Homo sapiens: one gene and its partners. The protein of the gene in region 2 purifies or fractionates together with the protein of the main gene of each other region. This does not show direct contact. Each region holds a gene or a part of one and is shown on either strand. Other genes may lie near its edges. The genes, in order: TRAP1, RPE and NRBP1.

The links.
Region 1: the proteins of RPE (region 2) and TRAP1 fractionate together in Homo sapiens (co-fractionation; one large-scale study listed by BioGRID). This does not show direct contact.
Region 3: the proteins of RPE (region 2) and NRBP1 fractionate together in Homo sapiens (co-fractionation; one large-scale study listed by BioGRID). This does not show direct contact.

Annotation. Positions count from the first base shown.
Region 1 is NC_000016.10:3,707,525-3,711,176, reverse strand, and holds part of TRAP1 (heat shock protein 75 kDa, mitochondrial isoform 1 precursor), read left to right. Parts: intron 1-774; exon of another isoform or gene 775-792; intron 793-3,652.
Region 2 is NC_000002.12:210,009,081-210,012,732, forward strand, and holds part of RPE (ribulose-phosphate 3-epimerase), read left to right. Parts: intron 1-576; coding exon 577-656; intron 657-3,652. UniProt on the Homo sapiens protein: Catalyzes the reversible epimerization of D-ribulose 5-phosphate to D-xylulose 5-phosphate.
Region 3 is NC_000002.12:27,431,577-27,435,228, reverse strand, and holds part of NRBP1 (nuclear receptor-binding protein), read right to left. Parts: intron 1,981-3,652; exon of another isoform or gene 1,976-1,980; 5' UTR 1,956-1,975; coding exon 1,746-1,955; intron 1,557-1,745; coding exon 1,434-1,556; intron 1,241-1,433; coding exon 1,139-1,240; intron 759-1,138; coding exon 669-758; intron 508-668; coding exon 467-507; intron 97-466; coding exon 2-96; intron 1-1. UniProt on the Homo sapiens protein: Required for embryonic development. Plays a role in intestinal epithelial cell fate and proliferation, thereby involved in the architectural development of the intestine potentially via the regulation of Wnt-responsive genes.

The DNA of each region.
Region 1 (3,652 bases), on a different chromosome or scaffold from region 2:
TGGCCAGGCCTGGTAGCTCATGCTTGTAATCCCAGCACTTTGGGGGCTGCGGCGGGAGGATCCTGTGAGTTTAGGAGTTTGAGACCAGCCTGGGCAACCTAGAGAGACCCCCATCTCTACCAAAAAACCCTTTTTTTTTTTTTTCCAATTAGCTGGGTGTGCCTGTGGTCCCAGCTACCCAAGAGGCTGAAGTGGGAGGCTCCCTTAAGCCTTGAGAAGTCGAGGCTGCAGTGAGCTGTGATCACGCCACTGCACTACAGTCTGGGTGACAGAGTGACAGTGTCTCAAAAAAAAAAATATATATATATATATATATATACACACACACATATAAAAGAAATTAATTTTGAGATAGCTAAATTAAATGCCATATTAAGAGCAGGAGGCTATTCAGCAATGCTGCTGAGAAGAAGACAGAAGGACGTGGGTCCTTCTAATGTAACTATGTGTGTCGGGTTAGTGATATGCACCTCGAAGGAGAAATTAAGACAGCACATTGCCATGTTAGTTCACACTTGCCAGTATTTCAGCATTTGTCAGGCAATGGAATGTTCAAGCGAATTTTCCACGAGGCTGACTTTAAAACATTTCATTTTAACCATTATGATGAGAAGTCTTTCTAGAACACTCCATCATTTGATGGCCCATGACTGAACCTCTCTTGGATGTTTTCAGGGTCATTATTACGGGTGTTAATGTTTGGTCTTCTGTTTTAATATGTAGGCTCCCGTAGGGCCATTGAAATGTGAAGAATCCTTCGTCTATGAAGTGTCCCCACATCAAAACTGCATTGTGAGTGTTTATATTTTTGGCCTCTCTTACTGTGGCCTTAACTTGCAGGTCTGTCTGGAGCCCTGTTCTCTCCTTTCCTAGTTTGCAGATGTGGCTGGGAAACTTGTTAGCATCAAATTGTTAGAATGAGATGGATTTCATATGGGGCCAGTAGTCTTCCATGAGCAAAGCTCAGGGTGAGGGCTTCAGGCCCATATTTTGACTATTCCGAGGTGCCCTTTCGCTTTTTGTTCTTTTTCTTTATGTTCAAGGAGTTATGTTTCCTGATGAATGAAGTATCAGTATATCATAGTAGAGAACGATTAGACCAGGTTCTGGAACACAGGAAACCTCAAGAAACAGTGAGTGTTGAGAATGCCAGAGCTAAGAACTCAGACATTTGTGAGGGAATACAGGTCTTTCTGTTCAGAATGTTCATGTACTTAAGAATCTTCTCGCCAGGCGCGGTGGCTCACGCCTGTAATCCCAGCACTTTGGCAGGCTGAGGCGGGTGGATCACCTGAGGTTAGGAGTTTGAGACCAGCCTGACCAACATGGAGAAACCCTGTCTCTACGAAAAATACAAAACTAGCCGGGCGTGGTGGCGCATGCCTGTAATCCCAGCTACTTAGGAGGCTGAGGCAGGAGAATCGCTTGAATCTGGGAGGTGGAGGTTGTGGTGTGCCGAGATGGCGCCACTGCACTCCAGCCTGGCAACAAGAGCGAAAACTCCGTCTCACACACACACACAAAAAAAAGGGAAACAAAGGTAAACTGGGAAGGAACCGTGTGTAATCTTCCGTACCTTGCATTTTCCACTTATATTCTGGGGTTTGTTTCCTGTCGCCACAGAGCTCTGGTATTCCATAGCGAGGATGTTTTGTAATTTATGTAACCCTCTCATGGCGGACATTTAGGTTGTTGCTGAGTTTCCCCAAGATAACAGACGGCATTGCCAACAGTTTCTCACACCTTCACCAGTGCTAGAATGACAGTATTTAAAACATCTGTCAATCTGGTAGTGAAAATGCTATCTCGTTTTAAAGTGCATTTCCTTAGTTATGAGTGTGGTAAAACATCTTTTACTAGGACGTAAAGCCATTGATGTTTCTTGTTTTTGTGAATGGCCATTTTTCTCTTGAACCAATGGCCTTTTTCTTTTTTTTTTTTTTTTTTTTGAGATGGAGTTTTGCACTTGGTGCCCAGGCTGGAGTGCAGTGGCGTGATCTTGGCTCACCGTAACCTCTGCGCTAGCCCTTTTAAATAACTTTTAAAAATTGAGACAGTGTCGGGCCAGGCACGGTGGCTCACGCCTGTAATCCCAGCACTGTGGGAGGCCGAGGCGGGCGGATCATGAGGTCAGGAGATCGAGACCATCCTGGCTAACACGGTGAAACCCCATCTCTACTAAAAATACAAAAAATTATCTGGGCATGGTGGCGGGCGCCTGTAGTCCCAGCTACTTGGGAAGCTGAGGCAGGAGAATGCCGTGAACCCAGGAAGCGGAGCTTGCAGTGAGCCGCGATCGCACCACTGCACTCCAGCCTCGGCAACAGAGCAAAACTCCATCTCAAAAAAAAAAAAAAAATTGAGACAGAGTCTGACTCTGTTGCCCAGGCTGGAGTGCAGTGGCGCCATCTCACCTTACTGTAACCTCCGCCTCCCGAGGTTAAGCAGTCCTCTCGCCTCAGCCTCACAAGTAGCCGGGATTACAGGCACGCGCCACCATGCCCGGCTCATTTATTTTTATTTATTTATTTATTTATTTTGAGATGGAGTCTCGCTCCGTCGCCCAGGCTGGAGTGCAGTGGTACAATCTTGGCTCACTGCAACCTCCGTCTCCCAGGTTGAAGCATTTCTCCTGCCTCAGCCTCCCTAGTAGCTGGGACTACAGGCACCCGTCACCACGCCCGGCTAATTTTTGTATTTTTAGTAGAGATGGAATTTCACCATGTTGATCAGGCTGGTCTTGAACTCCTGACCTCATGATCCATCCGCCTCAGCCTCCCAAAGTGTTGGCATTACAGGTGTGAGCCACTGCTCCTGGCTTTCTGGCTAATTTTTGTTTTTTTTTGTATTTTTAGTAGAGACAGGGTTTTGCCATGTTGGCCAGGCTAGTCTCAAACTCTTGACCTCGGGATCTGCCCGCCCCCACCTCCCAAAGTGCTGTGATTACAGGCGTGAGCCACGGCACTAAATTTTATTTTAGAGGCAGGGTCTTGCTTTGTCATCCGGGCTGGAGTGCAGTTGTGCGATCCTGGCTCGCTGCAGGCCTGACCTCCTGGACTCAAGTGATACTCCTGCCTCATCCTCCCAAGTGGCTGTGACCTCTTCCTCCCAAGGAGCATGTGCCACCATGCCTGGCTAATTAAAAAACATTTTTTTTAGAGATGGGGTCCCACTATATTGCCCCGGCTTGTCTTGAACTCCTGGTCTCAAGTGATCCTCCTACTTCTGCCTGCCAAAGTACTGGGATTACACGCAGGAGCCGTCGTGCCTGGCCCCCAGTTTTTTTCTTAATGTGTTTGTCTTTTTTTTTTTTTTTTTTGAGTTAGAGTCTCGCTCTGTCTGTTGCCCAGGCTGGAGTGCAGTGGCACGATCTTGGCTCACTGCAGCCTTCGCTTCCCGAGTGCAAGCAAGTCTCCTGCCTCAGCCTCTGGAGTAGCTGGGATTACAGATGCCCGCTGCGACTCCCAGCTAATTTTTGTATTTTTGGTAGAGACGGGGTTTCACCATGTTGGCCAGGCTGGTCTCGAACTCCTGACCTCAGGCGATCCACCCACCTCAGCCTCCCAAAGTGCTGGGATTACAGGCATGAGCCACCTCACCCGGGTGTTTGTCTTTTGACTTAAATTTTTATGTGGTCCTTATATTTATGGCC
Region 2 (3,652 bases):
AATAATAGCATCTACTTTGTAAGGCTGTCGTGAAGATGAAATGAAGTAAATTACGATGCTTGGCATGTAGTAAACCCTCGGTGAAAGGTGGTCGTTACTAATAAACACATCATGTTTCTTTATTAGTCATCTTTAAGAAAGTTTAAAGAAACTGTCATTTAGTGCCTTGTGATAGAAGTGATTAGAAGTAGCCACAGGCCTCCTGAGATAGACTAGGATTCAGGAGATCAATATTAGAGTCCAGAACTTACTAACTAGTGTGTGACTTGGGCAAGTCATAAAGCCTGAGGGTTTCTGATTTTATCATCTCTCCATTTCTACTTGTCATGGGTCGTGAATTACGGAGTCAAATCATTATGAAAATATATGTGACGTGATTTGTTGAAATGTCAAGGAGACATTGCCTAGTAAAACCAAAATGACCCATTATTTTTAGTATTATTTAATACTGATGATTAAGTATTAAATTGAAAAACATTGCAGACAATCCCCTCAACCTGTGTCAGAATTCATATTGAGAGAGATACAGAAACTGAATTGAAAACATTTTCAGAGTAGATTTTGTTTGTCTTGTAGGCATTTTGTTCCCAACATCACCTTTGGTCACCCTGTGGTAGAAAGCCTTCGAAAGCAGCTAGGCCAGGACCCTTTCTTTGGTAAGTGGGTGTTACGCCATCTGAAGCTGGATGTGTTGCTCAAGTAAAGGAAAACTGGATGGTTGATTTTAACTTCCAAGTTCATCTGGCACCCTTTCCCCAACTTTCCTATCCTGGGTCTTCATTGGCCTGACTCCAGTAACAAGCCAAACTTCTTCCTGCCTCTGGGCCTTGGCTAATCTGCATGGAAAGGTAGTAGCTTGGCTGGCTGCCTCATCTTTGGGCCTCAAGTCATTTGTCATTTCCTCAGAGAGGCCTTTTTGAGCGTCCTCTCCCAAATTAACCTTTATCCAATTATCTTATCACCTGTTGATTTTCCTCTGAGAACTTCCTTTGATCTGCGATTACTTTTATTAGACTATAAACTCTCTGAGGGCGGGGATTGAATCCAGTTTGTTTACTGTGGTTTTCCTAAAGCTAAGCATAGACATGATCAGGGCTCAGTGTAATTGTTAAGTGAATTTATGAATCAGTTGATTTATGGTCCAGAAGCCATTTATTTTGTGCAAATTGGAGCTTTCTACAAGTGGTGCCTAAATATTCACTCCAATGTCCTAGTACAATGTAAATTAAGATTTTTAAGATTACTTAGTGGCCTACAAGTGATTTATGTTAAGTTAGCAATGTCTCACCTGCCAGATCTCTTAAACATGAGAAATTTTACACATTTTTATAAATAGTGTTATTTATTTTTTTCTTTTTTTTAAAATAGAGACTGAGTTTCGCCATGTTTCCCGGGCTAGTCTCAAACTCCTGGGCTCAAGCAATCCACCTGCCTTGGCCTCCCAAAGTGCTAGGATTACAGGCTTGAGCCACCAGCCTAGCCATAAATAGTTTTTTTAACGTAGCTTACAATTTAGTAGAACTTAGATTCTTTTTAATCAGCATATTGCTGACCAGTTTTATGAAGGACTCTGTGCTGTTCACTATGGTAGTCATAAGCCACATGTAGCTATTAAAATTAAATAAACTTAAGTTCATGACCAGAATGGCCAACATGGTGAAACCCTGTCTCTACTAAAAATTCAAAAATTAATCAGGCGTGGTGGCAAACACCTATAATCCCAGCTACTCAGGAGGCTGAGGCATGAGAATCACTTGAACCTGGGAGGTGGAGATTGTAGTGAGCTGAGGTCATTCCACTGCACTCCAGCCTGAGTGACAGTGTGACACTCCATGTCAAAAAAAAAAAATTTTTTTTAAATTAAATAACATAAACTTAAAAATTCGGTTTCTTATTCACGTTAATCACATTGCAAGTCTTCAGTAGTCACATATTGTACAGTGCAGCTATGGGACATTTCCAATATCACAGAAAATTCTGTTGAATATAGTCTCCAGCCTCTGTGTAGGATCTATCTACTTTGAGTTCACCAAAGAAAATGTACATTATTACCTCATTTATGTGGCATGAGGAAACAATGTTCCACCAATATATTCACCATTTTGAAATTTCCATATAATGGGATATAGTCCTCTGATTATCTAAACTTTCTTTTAAGCCATGATTAGCTTATATAGCAGATACCGTGACTTTTCCTATGAATTACGGTTGTTCTCATGACCATGAGAGGTAGATGAAATAAATAGCATTGTTTTCTCCCACTGTACAACCAATGGCCAGAATCCTCGCTTCTGGCTTGCTTGTGTGAATTTTTTTAATGCTTGCTTTTTTTCCCCTTTTCGCTCCCTTTTATTTGGGCTCCCATTGTCACACCATACTATTGTCTATATCCCTTCCTGTCAGTGCCTTTCCTTTTAGCAATCCTGTGTTGCTGCCACCACACACAATCTGCTTTTTCTTCTTGTTTTTAATTTGTTGATAAACTTGCTAATTAATCTTTCTAGAATTTGGTCTAAAAGATAAATGAACTCCATTCACTTTAATGTTTGGGTTTTGTGACCCTTGTTTTTTGGTTTTTCGCTTTTTGTTGTTGTTGTTGTTGTTGCTTTAAGAGACAGACTCCGTCTATTACCCAGGCAAGAGTACAGTGGTACAGTCATAGCTCACTGCATCCTTGAACTCCTGGGCTCAAGCAATCCTCCCGCCACAGCTATAGCTAAGACTACAGGTGTGTGCCACCACAACCGGCTATTTTTTTTTTTTTTTTTTTTTTTTACTTTTTGTAGAGATGGGATCTCCCTGTATTGCCCAGGCTAATCTTGAATGCTTGGGCTCAAGCCATCCTCCTGCCTTGGCTTCCCAAAGTGTTGTGATAGTAGGTGTAAGTCACTGAGCCCGACTACCTTTGTTTTTTATATTGAGAAACATTTGTTTAATTCTTGGATTTTGGTTGTTGGATAATTGATACATGAATGTATTCTAGGACCTAGATTACATGTTGTGTTGTATATGTAACGCTAACATTCTTAACTGTTCAGTTTTCATATTGAGTAGAAATAAATGTCTAAGAAATACAGTGATGGGAAAAGTCTGTTCCTGTTATTGTCTAAATCAGTGATCCTCAAGTATGTTGTATAAGGACCCACACAAATCCTTAAGACCCTTTCGGGTCATCCATGAGAGTATATCAAAACTATTTTCATAATCCTAAGAAATTATTTGCCATTATTTCTACTGATGGTACAAAAACATTGATGAGTTAGTTTGCTGGTGCCTTAACCAACTCAAGGCAGGGACTGTATCAGGAGTTATTCTTCATCATCATGCATTTGCAATAAATATCCTTGATGAAGCAGTAGAAATTAATAAATCTTGGTCCCTGAATACATGCCTTTTTAATATTTTGTGTGGCAAAGTAGGAAGTGCATATAAAGTGCTTGTGCTGCATTGCTGCATACTGGAACATAATGGTTTTCTCAAGGAAAACCACTTGCACCATAGAGGTGTGATCTGAACTAGCTGCTTTCCTCCAGAACACTATGTTTGTTTGAAAGAACAACTGACAGATCAACTATGGTTTTTCAGACCTGGCTATTTTAATGACATTTAAAAAATATTAACTAAATGAGGCTGTCTCTTCAAGGAAAGATAC
Region 3 (3,652 bases), about 180 Mb from region 2:
CCAGAGCCAATCTTGATGAGTCCGTTGTGCTGGATGAAGATGGTGTCACAGGTCAGGTTCCCATGGATGATGGGGGGGTCACAGGAGTGCAGGTAGCTGTGGGGGCACTGGGCTGTTAGAGGGGCCACTGGGAAATTAAGGGCAGGGGGAACCCAAGGGTTAAGAGGAGCAAGGGCCAGGTCTCCTGCTGGTCACCATAAAGATAATCCCCACACTCTGAATCTCCATTATGCCTGATGATTTAAATAGCTGGATAAGCACTAGGAGAAAGAGGTAGGAGATAAGTGTCGTGGTTAGGGCATTAGGACGCACCCTTTAAAAGACCCGTAGGGGCCCTAATCTTGACAGTATATGATTCAAAGAAAGTGGGGAGAGGCAGAATAGAACAGAAGAGTAGTGCCCTGAAATCTGTTTGGAGTAACTACATCAGGAAATATGGGTAAGAAACTAACCAGGTACTACTTACCTTAGGGCAGAGAGGATTTGTGTGCACCAACGCTTCCATGCCTGGAACAAAGTTGGATCCAAGGGTCAGCAGTAATTCCCTCTCTTAACTCTCTCCCACTAGCTCCTTCCGTCCCTTCCTGATCAGCTTCATTATTAACAGAGTCCTTTTTAAAACCACCCCCAAAAACCAGCCTCAAACTTTGTCTGCTCTCCTTCTATACCTTTTCATTCATCGTCTTGTGGTTCTTTTTGGTCTTCTTCAGAAATTGCTTCAGACTCCCAGATGACATGTATTCTGTGATAAAAATGACCTGGGGAGGCAAAGCACTTACTAAAAGGCCTTATAGTAGAAATGATCCCTTCCCTTGTTAACATATTTTAAATTTGAAGGTTTGTTAAAATTTCTCTCCTTTTGTTCTTAGCTTTACTTACTTAGACTAAATAGGGCAATGAAAACAAGCAATGAAAGTTATGGGAAGAAAGAAGCAAAAGTTCACTCATTTTCTGCCCAATCTATAGCCACACAAAAGGCATAGGTGACAACTGAAGCCCTACTCTTATCGCCATTGCAGCTGATTCCAGTTCTGTTTCAAAACTACCTTGTTTTAATCTCTGAGTGTAAAAGGAACAATAATAAATGTAGCTAGTCTCTTTGCAATAAGTTCAGGAAATATGGGGAAAAAATTCTTACCCTGGCCTTGTTCTCTTTAATGTCAGCCCAATATTTGTGAAACTTAACAATGTTAAGATGCTCCAATTGAATCAGATTATCAAACACAGCACGAACCTTTTCCTGAAAGCAAGGGAGACAGTGGAATAACAGAGTCACAAATCACTGTAATAATCCTGAGAAGCCATTCCCTATCCCTCCCCAGAAACGATCTAACCCCAACATACTCTCCTCACGGGCAGCTTCCCAACACCAATTCCTCTCTAACATCAGTGTTCCAACATTCCCCAGGCTTCACCTTTTCAGCATCACCTACCTCCTGCAGCTTGTAGTTCTTGCGTTCAGAGAACTGTACCTCATTCCACACAACCTCTACACCTTCCTCTGTATCCATGGCCAGGTATGCACTGTCAATACCTGGTACATTCCGTTGATTCACCTGAGAAGAAATTCATATGAAAGAGAATTAAACTTATCTCACAAATCCTCCATTTTAACACTCCATATGATCATCTCCTCCTAGCCCCCAACCTATTGAAGTTTGGTTGGCCTCTTTTAAGACTTTGCTCTTCCAGTTCTCACCTTTCCAGAATTCACTCACCCAAGAGTAACTGTACCATAACCTTACCTCTTCTCGCCTCTTCTGCCAGCGCCCACAGGGCGACTCTTCCAAAATCTCAGACTCATCTTCACTTTCTTCTTCTTCCTCTGGGGAAGCAGCTGAGGTTGTGGAGGTCACAGGAGGTGACACTGATGTCAGGCCAGGAGCTGAAGATGAGGATTCTACCTTTGGGTCTGAGCCACTGCTAAGTACTGTCTGGGACTCCCCCTCCGACATGCTGGAAGGAACACTCAGGCCTGCACTGGTTGGGGCAAATACAGAGGGAAAAGGCAGAGAAAGTCAGGATACATCTGTAAAGATTTAGTAATCCAGGCTGGACGTGGTGGCTCATGCCTGTAATCCCAGCACTTTGGGAGGCTGAGGTGGGCAGATCACCTGAGGTCAGGAGTTCAAGACCAGCCTGATCAACATGGTGAAACCCCATCTCTACTAAAAATACAAAATTAGCTGGGTGTGGTGACGCGTGCCTGTAGTCCTAGCTACTCAGGAGACTAAGGCAGGAGAATTTTTTTGAACCAGGGAGGTGGAGGTTGCAGTGAGCTGAGATCACGCCACTGCACTCCAGCCTGGGTGACAGAGCAAGACCCCATCTCAAAAAAAAATTTAGTAATCCAGCTGAGCACAGTGGCTCACCTCTGTAATCCCAGCACTTTGAGAAGCCGAGGCAAGAGGTTCATTTGAGGCCAGGTGTTTGAGACCAGCCTGGGCAACAAAGTGAGACCCCATCTTTACAAAAAAATTTAAAAATTAGCAGGGCAAGGTGGTACACAGCTATAGTCCCAGCTACCCGAGAGGCTGATGGGAGAATCACTTGATTGCCCAGGAGTTTGAGGCTGCAGTGAGCTATGATCATGCCATTGGCTAGGCAACAGAGGGAGACCCTGTCTCAACAAAAAACAAACAAACAAAAAAAAAGATTTAATAATCCTAATACTTATCTGCAAATTCAAAAGAAAATAAAACAGGCCAGGCATTTGAGACCAGCCTGGACAACATAAAAAGACCCCAGTCTCTACACAAAACTTTTAAAAATTAAAAATAGAAAACACACACCACCTTTGTTTCCTTTAAATCCAAAATCAGAATCAGTCCTAAATACTGAAACATTAACTATTCTCCTAACTCTAGTCTAGAAAAGGGGAGCTATCTTAGTTGAAGATGACCCTCCCAGGAATGACAAACACAAGATTTATGGCAGTCTAATCCCACTTAGAGTAAGGTTCAAATCACCAGCAAAATCAGGTGCTCCATTCCTTCTTGGCAAATACTCATCCAATAGGCTTCCCTTTGAATCCCCAAGTACACCCTATTTTTACTGTGCTCAAGAATTAAGCTATGTGTGGACGGGCACAGTGGCTCACGCCTTTAATCCCAACACTTTGGGAGGCCGAGGTAGGTGGATTACCTGAGGTCAGGAGTTCGAGACCAGCCTGACCAACATGGCAAAACCCTGTCTCTACTAAAAATAAAAAAATTAGCTGGGTGTGGTGGCACGCACCTGTAGTCCCAGCTACTCAGGAGGCTGAGGCAGGAGAATCACTTGAACCCGGGAGGCAGAGGTTGCAGTGAGCTGAGATCGTGCCACTGCACTCCAGCTTGGGCAACAGAGTGAGACTCTGTCTCAAAAAATAAAAAAATATAAACTATGTGGGCGCTATTCAGAACAGATGACTCCAGACTCCAAAATGTTTCAGTGAGACAGCCTTAAGGCTAGACCTGTAGCACCCTCAGCCAACTTATCCAGCTGAAACCCTTGGCTAATTTATCCAGCTAGAACTAACCTTGGCATTCACTATCCATCCCTTCTCTACACAGAACAAGCCCACTAGTCCATGGTGAGGCTACCCTTGGGGCACATGACTGGCAGTTGTTAGTGACTTCATCCCTGATGACCTCACCTTTCCTGTGATGTG